Linked DNA regions of Homo sapiens. The protein of the gene in region 2 purifies or fractionates together with the protein of the main gene of each other region. This does not show direct contact. Each region holds a gene or a part of one and is shown on either strand. Other genes may lie near its edges.

What was found. Proteins that work in one complex are often made in the same cells at the same time.
Region 1: the proteins of ZNF512 (region 2) and DDX24 purify together in Homo sapiens (affinity purification with mass spectrometry; 2 studies listed by BioGRID and IntAct, with this or other methods). This does not show direct contact.
Region 3: the proteins of ZNF512 (region 2) and DDX31 purify together in Homo sapiens (affinity purification with mass spectrometry; 2 studies listed by BioGRID and IntAct, with this or other methods). This does not show direct contact.
Region 4: the proteins of ZNF512 (region 2) and RMP64 purify together in Homo sapiens (affinity purification with mass spectrometry; 2 studies listed by BioGRID and IntAct, with this or other methods). This does not show direct contact.

The regions. Positions count from the first base shown.
Region 1 is NC_000014.9:94,074,703-94,078,202, forward strand, and holds part of DDX24 (ATP-dependent RNA helicase DDX24), read right to left. Parts: intron 1-3,500. UniProt on the Homo sapiens protein: ATP-dependent RNA helicase that plays a role in various aspects of RNA metabolism including pre-mRNA splicing and is thereby involved in different biological processes such as cell cycle regulation or innate immunity.
Region 2 is NC_000002.12:27,593,042-27,596,541, reverse strand, and holds part of ZNF512 (zinc finger protein 512), read right to left. Parts: intron 1-3,500. UniProt on the Homo sapiens protein: May be involved in transcriptional regulation.
Region 3 is NC_000009.12:132,594,741-132,596,983, forward strand, and holds part of DDX31 (ATP-dependent DNA helicase DDX31), read right to left. Parts: intron 1,683-2,243; coding exon of another isoform or gene 1,628-1,682; exon of another isoform or gene 403-1,627; intron 373-402; coding exon 126-372; 3' UTR 1-125. UniProt on the Homo sapiens protein: May have DNA helicase activity and RNA helicase activity. Probably have ssDNA and RNA dependent ATPase activity. Plays a role in ribosome biogenesis and TP53/p53 regulation through its interaction with NPM1.
Region 4 is NC_000003.12:113,006,172-113,009,671, forward strand, and holds part of RMP64 (nucleolus and neural progenitor protein), read right to left. Parts: intron 2,260-3,500; coding exon 2,000-2,259; intron 1-1,999. UniProt on the Homo sapiens protein: May play a role in cortex development as part of the Notch signaling pathway. Downstream of Notch may repress the expression of proneural genes and inhibit neuronal differentiation thereby maintaining neural progenitors.

The DNA.
Region 1 (3,500 bases), on a different chromosome or scaffold from region 2:
AAGGTGTTAGCCACTGCAATACAACAAGAAAAACAAAAGGCATCCAAGACTGGATAATGATCATCTTTGCAGAAAATACCATGGAATCCTCAGAAAACTACTTGGTGGAACTAAGTTGCAGGACACAAGATCAATATACAAAAATCCATCATATTTCTACTTATTGGCGACAAACAATCGGAAATAAAAAATTTTAAATTACCATTTACAATAGAATCAAAAATATAAAATGCTTAAGGATAAATCTAACATAAGATGTGAAAAATCTATATACTGAAAATTTTAAAACATTGCTAAGAAAAGTTAAAGATCTAAAGAAATGGAGAGATACCATATTCATAGACTGGAAAATTAAATATTGTTAAGACGTCATCTATCCTCAATTTGCTCTGTAATCAACAGAATCCCAATCCAGATATCAGCTTACTTTTTTTGTAGAAACTGATATAACGGATTCTAAAATCCATATGGAAGGGCAAAGGCCTACAACAGTCAAAATAACTTTTAAAAAGAACAAAGTTAGAGGACTCATACTACCTGATTTTAAGACTTATTATAAAGCTATTATAACCAAGAGAATAAGAAACTGACATAAAGACTAGACAAACAGATCAATGGAAAACAAAAAGACTCCAGAGAAAGACCCACACCTATATGGTCACAGACTTTCAACAAAGATGCAAAGTCAACTCAGTGGAGAAAGAATAGTTTTTCTACAAATGGTGCTGAAATAATTAGCCATATGCAGAAAAACCCACAAACTTTGATCCATACTTCTCACTCTAAATAAAAGTTAACTCAATAAGGATCAGAGACCAAAACATAAAACCTAAGACTATTAACACTTCTAGAACAAAACACAGGAGAAATCTTTGTGATCTTGAATTAGGCAAAAGGTTCTTAGATAAAACACCAACGGCACCAAAAGCATAAATTCATAAAAGACAAGGCTAATTTGGATTTCATCAAAATAAAGACTTTCTGCTCTTTGAAAAACACTGTTAAGAGAACGAAAAGATAAGCCACAAACTGGGAGAAAAATTTGCAAATCTCACATCTGATAAAGGACATGTATCTAGAATACACAATGAACTCCCAAAACTCTACAACAGAACATCCCTATTTTAAAAATGGGCAAAATAATCAAACAGACAAATAAGCATATGCTAAAATGCTCTACATTGCTAGTCACTAGGGAAATGCAAATTCAAATGACAAGGAAATAATAGTAAAATTTTAAAAGTCTAAAATAAAATTAAAGACTGAGCATACCTAGTTATTGACAAGAATATGGACCAACTTGAACTCATACCACCTAGTGACAACGTAAAATGGTATAATCACTTTGGAAAACTCTTTAAAAGTTACATTTACCACAAGACCTAGCCATTCCACACCTAGGTATTTATCCAATAGAAATTAAAGCACATATCCATACAAAGACTGGTACAATAGTATTTACAATAACTATATTTGTAATAGCCAAAAACAAGAAAAAGCACAAATGTCCATCAATAGATGAACAAACTGCTCTACCCACACATTGGAATACTATTCATCACTAAAAAGGAATGAACTGCTAGTAATTGTAATAACATGGCGTAATCTCAAATTATGCTGAGTCAAAGACTCAGATACCACCCCCTCCAGTACATATTATATGATTTCATTATATAAAATTCTAGAAAACGCAAATTAGGCCGGGGACAGTGGCTCACACCTGTAATCCCAGCACTTTGGGAGGCCGAAGCAGGCAGGTCATGAGGGCAGGAGTTTGCGACCAGCCTGACCAACATAGTGAAACCCCGTCTCTGCTAAAAATACAAAAATTAGCCAGATGTGGTGGCAAGTGCCTGTAATCCCAGCTATTCGGGAAGCTGAGGCAGGAGAATCACTTGAACCCAGGAGGCGGAGGTTGCAGTGAGCCGAGATTGGGCCACTGCACTCCAGCCTGGGTGACAGAGCGAGACTCCGTCTCAAAAAAAAAAAAAAAAAGAAAGCAAGAAAATGCAAATTAATCTATAGTGATAGAAAGCCTATCAGTGGTTGCCTGAGGAGGAACAAGAACTGAGGGAGGGAGGGAGGGACAACAAAAAAAACCCAGGGTATCTTTTTGGGGGTAATGGATATACAGTTGACCCTTTAACACAAATTTGAAGGTAGGGGTCCACTTATACACAGAATTTCTTCCACCTCAGCCACCCTGAGACAGCAAGACCAACCCCTCCTCTTTCTACTCAGCCTACTGAAAGTCAAGATGAAGATGAACACATTTATGATGATCCACTTCCATTTAATGAATAGTAAATATATTTTCTGTTCCTTACAATTTTCTTAATAACATTTTTTCTCTAGCTTATGTTACTGTAAGAATAAAGTATATAATACAAAATATGTGCTAATAGACTGCTTATGTTATCTGTAAGGCATCCAGCCAATAATAGGCTATTAGCGTTTAAGTTTGGGGGGAGTTCAAAATTATACATGGATTTTCGACTGCACAGGGGACCAATGCCCCTAATCCCCACATTAAGGGTCTATTTATTATTGCATGGGCAGTGGTCTGTTCACAGCCCCAGATGGATGACTTATCCAAGTCGTTTTGAATTCTGGACTTGTAGATTCACAACCTGACAGGAACTGTGGTATACATCCAAATGTCAATCTCTGGCCACAACGGCTCATATAAACCTTGTTTCTGCCTTCCACGGACTTACTTCCAGGACTCTGCTGCACATACCAAAGCAGTGTAGCAGAATGCTTAACAACACACAGAACTAGCCTGGAATCCATACACTACCATTTCAGTTGTGTAATTTTAGGGAAGCTGTCTATGCTCTGTGAGGCTGAGTTTTCTCATCTGTAACATGGGAATAATGGTACTTACCCCAGGGTGGTTGTGACAACCGATTTCATCAACATAAAGCACTTAACACAGTGCATGACACATCTTAAATGCTCAGTAAATGTTCTAAGTTATTATCTCCATTCCCCTTTCCTGTAGTTCCTCACTCTTCCATCTATATGACTGCCACAGAACATCATCCTGAGTTTCCTGACCACTGTTCCAGAAACCCAAAGCACGTGTCTACTGAACACTTAAAATGTAGTTACTCTAAAATGACATGTGCTGCAAGTTTAAAACACACCAGATTTTGAAAATTTAGTAAAAAAAAAAAAAAGAACATAAAATATCTCACTAGTTTTTAACTTTTAAAAAATGTGACTCCTAGTAAATTTTAAATTACTTATGTGTTTCACATTATACAGTCACCCTTCTGTAACCGTGGGTTCTGCATCTGTGGATCGACAATATTCGGGGGGGTAAAAAAAAAAAAACTGTATCTGTACTAAACACTGTACAGACTTTTCTTGTCATTATTCCCTAAACAATACGGTGTAACAATTTACATAAGACCTATGTTGTATGAGATATTATAAGTAATCGAGAGATGATTTAAAATATACAGGAGGATGTGCCTATATAGGTTATATGTAAG
Region 2 (3,500 bases):
ATGAACCCCACTTGCAGAGCAGCATAGGCAGCTTTAATTCTAGAAACTCCCTTCTTTCTTACCAGGTAAATCAGGAAAAAAGGTCCCTGTGGACCAGAGTTGGGGGACTGGGGGTGGGAGGAATGCTAGAGAGAAAACAGGCAAAAAAAAGAATCTCTTAATTCAATGTATGAATCCAAATAAGTCACAACTTAACCTTAGCCATGAATGTGTGGCATATACCCATACGTACCAGCCTAGCAAAGACTTTGAAAACCAAAATGAGATTTGAACTCTAATGTGACCCAAACCAAAGCAGCAAAAGCTTGGAGAACTGAAATAAGATTGGAAACACCTGCAGAAGTCTCAGACCAGCCCCTAAGCTATTCATGTTTGGGACAGCTCAAATCAACATAGCAAAGACATAAAGAACAGAACCGAGATTTTAACAAATGCCTCCAAAAGCAAGACAGAAGTTTTGGCCTGAACCTGAAGCAGGGTGGCCTGCTAAAACAGAAACGGCAACATTCCCCAGAAGAATTATAATAGGACCCAAAATCTACACAAAAAGTATTCACAATGATGAGGATAAATTCCAAAATTATGCAACACATAAAGAACCAGGAAAATGTGAGCAATTTTCAAAGGAACAAATGACCAAAACATGCCAGCCACAAGGTGATCCAGATTTTGGGACTATCAAATACTGTCAACAAAAAAGAAATACTTTCTTATAAAGAAAACACACAAGAAATGAAGGAAAAGGTGGGAATCATCAGCAGAAAAAGAAACCATAAAAAAGAACCAAATGAAATCTTAGAACTGAAAAATACAACATCTGAAATAAAAACTCATCAGATAGGTTCAGTAATAGAATGGAGATGACAGAGGAAAGAGTCTGTGAACTTGAAGACCGTTCAATAGAAATGACCCAGTCTCCACCGGGCACAGTGGCTCACGCCTGTAATCCAGCACTTTGGGAGGCCGAGGCAGGCGGATCACAAGGTCAGGAGTTCGAGACCAGCCTGATCAGCATAGTGAAACCCCGTCTCTACTAAAAATACAAAAGAATTAGCCAGGCCTGGTGGTGGGTGCCTGTAATCTCAGCTACTCGGCAGGCTGAGGCAGGAGAATCGCTTGAACCTGGGAGGCGGAGGCTGCAATGAGCAGAGATCGCGCCGCTGCAGTGAGCAGAGATCGCACCACTGCACTCCAGCCTGGGCGACAGTGCGAGACTCCATCTCAAAAAAAAAAAAAAAGAAAAGAAAAGAAAAAAAACCAGTCTGAAGAACAAAGAGAAAAAAAGATTGAAAAACATTCAACAAAACCCTAATACCAAACGTTTTAACTTAAGTGTAGTTGTAATCCCAGAGGGAGAGGCGAAAGATACTAATGCAGCTCTCGCTCTCCCTCTCCCCGCTCTCCTCCCTCTCCCTTCTTCGGTCTCCCTCTGTTGCCAAGGCTGGACCATACTGCCGTGATCTCACCTAGCTACAACCTCCCTACCTCGGGCTCCCCTGATTCTCCTGCCTGGGCCTGCCCAATGCCTGGGATTGCAGGCACGCGCCGCCACGCCTGACTGGTTTTTGTATTTTTGGTGGAGACGGGGTTTCGCCGTGTTGACCAGGCTGGTCTCCAGCTCCTGACCTCGAGTGATCTGCTCGCCTCCGCCTCCCGAGGTGCTGGGATTGCAGACGGAGTCTTGCTCACTCAATGCTCAATGTTGCCCAGGCTGGAGTGCAGTGGCGTGATCTCGGCTCGCTACAACCTCCACCTCCCAGCCGCCTGCCTTGGCCTCCCAAAGTGCTAAGACTACAGCCTCTGCCCGGCCGCCACCCCATCTAGGAAGTGAGGAGCGTCTCTGCCTGGCTGCCCATCATCTGGGATGGGAGGAGACCCTCTGCCCGGCCGCCCCGTCTGGGAAGTGAGGAGCGCCTCTGCCCGGCCGCCACCCCGTCTAGGAAGTGAGGAGCGTCTCTGCCTGGCCGCCCATCATCTGGGATGTGACCAGCGCCTCTGCCCGGCCGCCCTGTCTGGGAAGTGAGGAGCGCCTCTGCCCGGCCGCCCTGTCTGGGAGGTGAGGAGCACCTCTGCCCGGCCGCCACCCCGTCTGGGAGGTGAGGAGCGTCTCTGCCCAGCCGCCACCCCGTCTGGGAGGTGAGGAGCGTCTCTGCCCGGCCGCCACCCCTTCTGGGAGGTGAGGAGCGCCTCCGCCCGGCCGCCACCCCGTTTAGGAGGTGAGGAGCGCCTCTGCCCGGCTGCCACCCCGTCTGCGAACTGAGGAGTGCCTCTGCCCGGCCACCACCCCGTCTGGGATGTGAGGAGCGCCTCTGCCCGGCCGCCCTGTCCGGGAGGTGAGGAGTGCCTCTGCCTGGCCGCCCCATCTGGGATGTGAGGAGCGCCTCTGCCCGGCCGCCACCCTGTCTGGGAAGTGAGGAGCACCTCTGACTGGCCGCTGTGCAATCTTCCAAGTGTGAAGTGACAGCCTTTCTGCAGGTGTACCCAACAGCTCCGAAGAGACAGTGACCATTGAGAATGGGCCATGATGATGATGGCGGTTTTGTCGAAAAGAAAAGGGGGAAATGTGGAGAAAAGAAAGAGAGATCAGATTGTTACTGTGTCTGTGTAGAAAGAAGTAGACATAGGAGACTCCATTTTGTTCTGTACTAAGAAAAATTCTTCTGCCTTGGGATGCTGTTGATCTATAACCTTACCCCCAACCCTGTGCTCTCTGAAACATGTGCTGTGTCAACTCAGGGTTAAATGGAAAAAAAAAAAAAGAAAGAAAGAAAGATACTAAGGCAGAAAAATACATTTGAAAAAAAAAAGGTGGAAAATCCCCCACGTTTGGTCAGATATAAATTTACAGATTCAAGGAGCTCAACAAACACCAAATAGGATAACTCAAAGAAAAACATACCAAGATACATCTTTTTGTTTTGTTTTGAAACACAGTCTTGTTCTGTTCTCCAGGCCAGAGTGCAGTGGCACATGGCTCACTGCAGCTTGGACCTCTCTGGCTCAAGTGATCCTCTCACCTCACCATACCCGAGTAGCTGGAACCACAGGTGCACACCATCATACCCACTAAATTTTTGTGTTTTTTCATAGAGACAGGGTCTTGCTATGTTGCCCAGGCTGGTCCAAAGCACTTTTTTTTTTTTTTTTTTTGAGACAAGGTCTCACTCTGTCACTCAGGCTGGAGTGTAGTGGCTCAAGCACAGCCTCCACCTCCCAGGCTTAAACAATCCTCCCACCTCAGCCTCCTGAGTAGCTGAGACCACAAGTGTGTGCCACGGTACCCAGCTCATTCTTTTGTGTGTGTGTGTGTGTGTGTGTGTGTGTGTGTGTGTGTGTGTGTGTGTGTAGAGACAGGGTCTCACTTTGTTGTCCAGGCTGGTATCAAACTCCTGGGCTCAAGCAATCTTCCTACCTCAGCCTCCCAAACTGCTGGGATTACAGGCATGAGCCACGGTACCCAACCAAGACACATCTTAACGAAACTATTCAGCCAGGAAGGG
Region 3 (2,243 bases), on a different chromosome or scaffold from region 2:
TTCTTGGGGACGTGGTATTCAGGCAAAGGCGCAGTTATTTTTCACAAGCCTCCTCTGACAAGAACTGGACATCAATCCACTGCCACCCGGGGCTTCCAGGTTCCACTCGAAGACCCAGAGAGATTTTAAACTTTCTGGGAAGTCTTGCTGTCCCGCTGTACACCTTTTTGGGTTTTTCTCCATTTTAATGTTTTCCCACGGCCAAAGCAGGGTGTCGGCTGCAGACTGTGCTGCAGGGGCCGGCCACCAGGCTCTCCAGGTGCGTTTTGCTTTTTGACCTTGGCGATGTCGGCCTCCATGCCGCTTGAGTATTCCGAACGTAGGATTTCAGCGAGGCTGTGTTTACTCTGGGTCTTCTTATGAAGGTCAGGCCTGAAGAACAGTAACAGCAGAGAGGGAAAAGAAACTTTATTATTTTTCTTTCCCATTTGGAAAGAGGCTGATAGCAGCTGGTTCTGAGACTGTGAAGCTGACATTTTTGTATTAACAGAAGTACAATCCCTTCAATAGTACTTGTTTTGATATTCGATGCACCAGAAGATTAGATACGGCGCTGACAGATTTTCATAACAGCGGCAAAATATCATGGCATTTTTAAAAGTGAGGCTTTGTTCTGTGTTGTTTTCATGGGGAAAAAAAGAACTATACACCCTCATGCTCTGATGGCAAATGAGGTGTATGATACAGCGGTTTGCCAAAGGACAGGGAAAAACCCACCGTCACACTCAACAACATGAAGCAGTGAAAGCTCACGGCAGCTTCCCAGTAACCCCTAAGCAGCTTAAAGCAACTGGCCTCCTCATGGGCTCCTGAGGGCTTCAGGACTCAGCCCTGCGGGAGCAGAGTCCAGCAAGTTCCACGCAGCCCTCCAGGGTTCCACAGTGAAGGCTGGGATGACAGCCAGATAGCTCTTTATGAACGGAAAAAACTCTTAAACATATTTCTGACCCTACAAAACCCAAACCCAGGGCACAGCCTGGTCAATGTCTGCATCTAGGATTAGACCAGCAGCTTTCTGCAGCCCACACAAACCCGGGTGTTAGAGGGAGGTCTCTCCCTACCCTAAGTCACTCAGAAAATGCCAAAGGTTGAAAATCAATTTCCGATGTCGAATCCTGATAACTGTTCTGAAAAGATGGCAATTTTACCATTTGATCGGAAGATCAGAGGAGGAAATTTGTAGATGTTCAATCATACATAAGAAGAATGATTATGAAAACTGAAGAGTAAAACAATGTTTCTTAAGACAGGATTTTAACCAAAGCAACAACAATAAAACAATTACCAATAAATCCACACTTCCTTGCTGGCAACTCCTTCAATACCAAAACGGCAATGTCTTAGGATACTATAGTGTCATGGAGTTCTCACAAAGACATATGTTACGTTCTGCTACTACATTTAGAGCATTTTCTTTGCTGTAATCAGAGAATAAACTGAACTGAAACTGTGGTCAAAATAAATGTAACAATGCCTTTAAAACCCAAGAATTAGAAATAAGACTAATAGTGTGTTGTTAACCTGACTGTGAAAGCTTGTAGAAACCCATTATAAACGAGCTAAAGCAATAATACCTGTTTCTAATCACACTCCAGAGGACAGGGTGACAGTCATACAATGGTGTTTTCTATTGCAACATACAGGAAGACACATTCAAGCCAACCTCTGCAGGAAAAGAAGATCTGAAACAAGGGGACAATGAACAGATAACATTTAAAGGCCAGGAGTTTATGGGGTGAGCACATCAGGGCAGGATGTAGTGAGAAGATTAGAAGTATACAGGGAAGACTTCCTGGGGTCTGTGGGAAATGATTCACATACACAATCTCTTACAATCCTCGCTCAACAAGGTGGGTACGGTTATTATCCTCATTTACAGACAAGGACACAAAGACTCAAGGAGGGTAACCTGCCCCAGGACCACATGGCTGGTAAGTGGAGAAGCCAAGAGGCAAACTCAGGGCAGAGAACGATTTGCCGGGTCAGCGGGGGCAGGACTCAGCTGGACCAAGGGTGGAAAATGGTGAGATGTGATGGGAGGGGTCCTCTGTGGTCTCCTAAGGACTACTTCAGCAGGACAGTGGGGCAGGAGCCAGGCAAGTGAGTAGGGAGTGGTGAGGGGAGACAGCAGAGCTGCAGGGTGGAGGAGGGAGAAGCCAGGGTTGGAACTTGACTATCACTCATCAGCTGAGGACACAGAATGAGTGACTCAGGCTCTGTGCCTCAGTTTCCTCACTGAGAAT
Region 4 (3,500 bases), on a different chromosome or scaffold from region 2:
GAGAGCACAAATGCCCTCTGATTGAAGTGTAGACGAATGTGTCCCCATTTTGCTTTCAAACTCTCAAAAGTACAGCCGCCTAGCAATTAGCTGAATGGCGAGATACCCTATACTTTAGTGTCAGAGCTTTTCCCTCATAACTGCTAATCTGTTCATAATGTAATGAGTGGACATGAGGAAACATCACAAATGAAAAAATCTGCCAGTACGTATTAATCCGAATCTGGATAATCAGCTTCATGCTGTGGCAGGAAATGAACAAGGAAAAAGGAATAAAGGCTAAGAGGGGTTTATAAAACAATATGAAGACAGGGCTTCTGGCCCAGATACACAGACAGCCTTAAGCTACCCTAATTATGATTCATATGTCATCTTCAAGTTTGGAAATTCAGAAATCAAACAGCTGATCATTTTAGGTGTTTTGCTTCCACACACGGTACACTGCCACAAGGTTCATCAGTGCCTTGCTGAATTGTTTCACTGTTTGTGATAGATTTTAAAAGACGGGCATGGATATAAAACTTTGAGGAAGCCCATTATAATAAAGTAAATCATGATCTTTGCTTCCATACCATTTTCTTATCTCACTATAAGCAGTGGCTTTTAAGTGGGGAGAAGGTGGGTGTACTTCAGAGTTGAAAGGAAAACAGAGGGCCTGAACTGAGTTCCACATCTAACCCCTTGAGCAAAATCCTCCATTTACCCATCTATGAAATGGGAATAATACTGTCTACCTCACAATGTTATTATGGACATTAAATAAATTATAAAGTTTACTACAAATATATTAATGAAACAGCAAAACAGGGCAATCTATGAAGGAGCACTATATCTGGGGGAGTACTGAGTAATGGTTTAACCAATAAACACCAGTTTGCTACCCTTCTCATTAACTTTTAGTTGTTACCTCTGCCTCATCTACCCTTGATTTTAAACCCAATTTTAAACAGAATGCTTCTCTCCATCTCAGGCTGCGTCTCCAGCCATAGGATACATCACTTTTAGATTATTACAGACCTTTAGAGGAGCCATCTCAATGTAAAAACCCCTCAAGCACTTTATCCCTCAGGAATATTCAACCACTTTCCCCATAGCTTTTAATCAAAATGTGTTACAAAACCCTCACTGTATACTTTTTTTTTTCTAAAACAGGAATATATTTTATGCAAATTTTAAAAGAAAATTTAACAAATTTTCAATACGTGGTTCATCCCCAGGAATGAACTTTAAATCCCTGAATAGCTCTAAACTATGGATAAGAAATTATGGGGCATGCACAGGATATTTGTTAAAGAATACAATAAAAAACAGGTCAGAATAATTGCCTCTGTGAAGGTGGAATAGGCTCTTAATACATATTTGTGTCTGAAATCATTACCGTTAAGCCCTGAAGTGTCTAATGTCTAAATTCATGTAATACTTCATGCAATACTGGTTCACAAGCAAAGATAAGCACCCTTAAACAGTTGTGAATATAAAAATCACAGAAAAGAAATATAGATAGAGTCCAGCTGCTACAAACAGTAGCAAGTAGCAACAGTACAACACCCCAGCAGTCTTGTGTGGGCCTCATGGAAGGCAGGCACCTTCTGCTTCTGCTCTCATGCCCTTATCCCACTGCACTGCACTGAAGCTGTCTGCAGAAGGGCTGCCTTTCCCAGAAGACCCTGAGCTCCCTGAAGACCAAGTCACGTCTTTATGCAGTTGTATCCTCAGGCTCAGCACACTAGACACTCTTAATGGTTCCTGAATGAGCTGATGGAAATGATGAAGAGCATAACGGGGACTGAAGTCCAATTAACTTGTTTATCTTCTTCCTCCAATGATACAGCTTTGCTCTTACAATAAAAGCAGCAAATGCAATTGCAGTTTGAGTACATCCCAATTTAGCCCCGCTGCGGCTGCTGGACATCACATTTTAAAGAAAAGTGACCTGAATACTTTTACTCATAACAACAACAGAAAAAGTAAAGTAACATAATTTTTGCAATATACCTACCTAGTACCTTGAGCTTCCAGATGTTTAAGCCGGTTGCTTTTAAGAAGTTTGTTACCCAGAAAAATGGCCTGAGCCTTGAGTTTTTTGCTCCTGCACCATACAACTGCCATCTGGATTTCTTCAGAAAGTTGTGTGAAGGACTCAGCCTCTCGGAATCTTTGCACAAAACTTTTGGCATGAGGAGTTCCTATCACTTTCTGAGAAGAATACTTGGTTGTCTTTAGTCTGGATTGAGAACATTTAAAATCAAAACTGGTCTCCTGAAACGTGGAAAGATGAGAAAAATATATTGGACATGTTACTGACTTGTAATTATATGACAACAAGGAAAGCTAGCTCACAATCAAAATTTAAAAATTAGAATTATCAGTCCCTAAATGCTTGAAGTGATGGATACCCCATTTACCCTGTGGTTATTATGCACTATATGCTTATAACAAAATACGTACCCCATAAATATATATACCTGCTACGTACCCACAAAACCTAAAAATTAAAAAAAAAAAATCAGTCTGTAAGGAAATTTTTTTGCTCACTAAGCTTTCCTTATGTCTTTAAAAACTGAATTTTTCTCCACTGCTCCAAATACAAGTTGTTTTGTTCCCCCTCTGTACCAGGACAGGTCCCATCTGCAGCTGAATTAGATTGACATAGGAAAGTTAACATAAATATCCTAACACACATATCTCACATACACAATAAAAAAACCCCACATGATTAAATACTGGTCAAAGCCTAATTGCAGAGGGTTGGGGGATCACTGAAAGGCCCCTCTTCGCTACACCACCAGATTATCACGACTTGTTTTTCACTTATTTCCGTATCCTGGGCAAACCTCCTCAATTTAGAAATGTTTCTGAAAACAGGGAAGATATGGGGCCCTGCAGAGTGCCCAGCAGAATAAGCCCATTAATCAGTTAATGCCTGCTGAATATCTATTAAAAATGCTCAATTGAGCAACACTTCCAATTCTACTTCAACCATCTTCTGACAAGGCACCTTTACTTCTTCAACCCCTTCTTTCTATATCAAGTCACATTTGGATTTTACTAACGTTTACTATTTCTTTATGAAAATATGCTGCCTACGAGATGATCTGCTCTTTCATTCAAAGCTTACCTTCTTCCAAATTTCTTACACTCAAAAGGAACTTTAAAAAAAAGTAGAAAATATAAAAGTAATGACCCAGGTCAATAGTTTATGTTTGGTGATCAATAGAAGTAGTTTGCTTTAAAGCTAAGCAAGTTAGTGCTATTTGCTAAAAATATAGTAGCAGTTAGTTTTGAGTAAGAGGGATGCTGACCCACCAACTTCAAAGCCAGCTCACCTACAAACAGGTGCACAGGCTGCAGAAGTTTCAAGGTTCACAAAGCACCATAGTTCTTGAGATACAGTTGAAAAACTGTTCTGGGGACTGGTGAATAGTAAAGAAGAAAGACTATGAAACCATACTGCCTGCATTCAAATCGCAGCTCTACCATTTATTCACTATGTGGCCTGG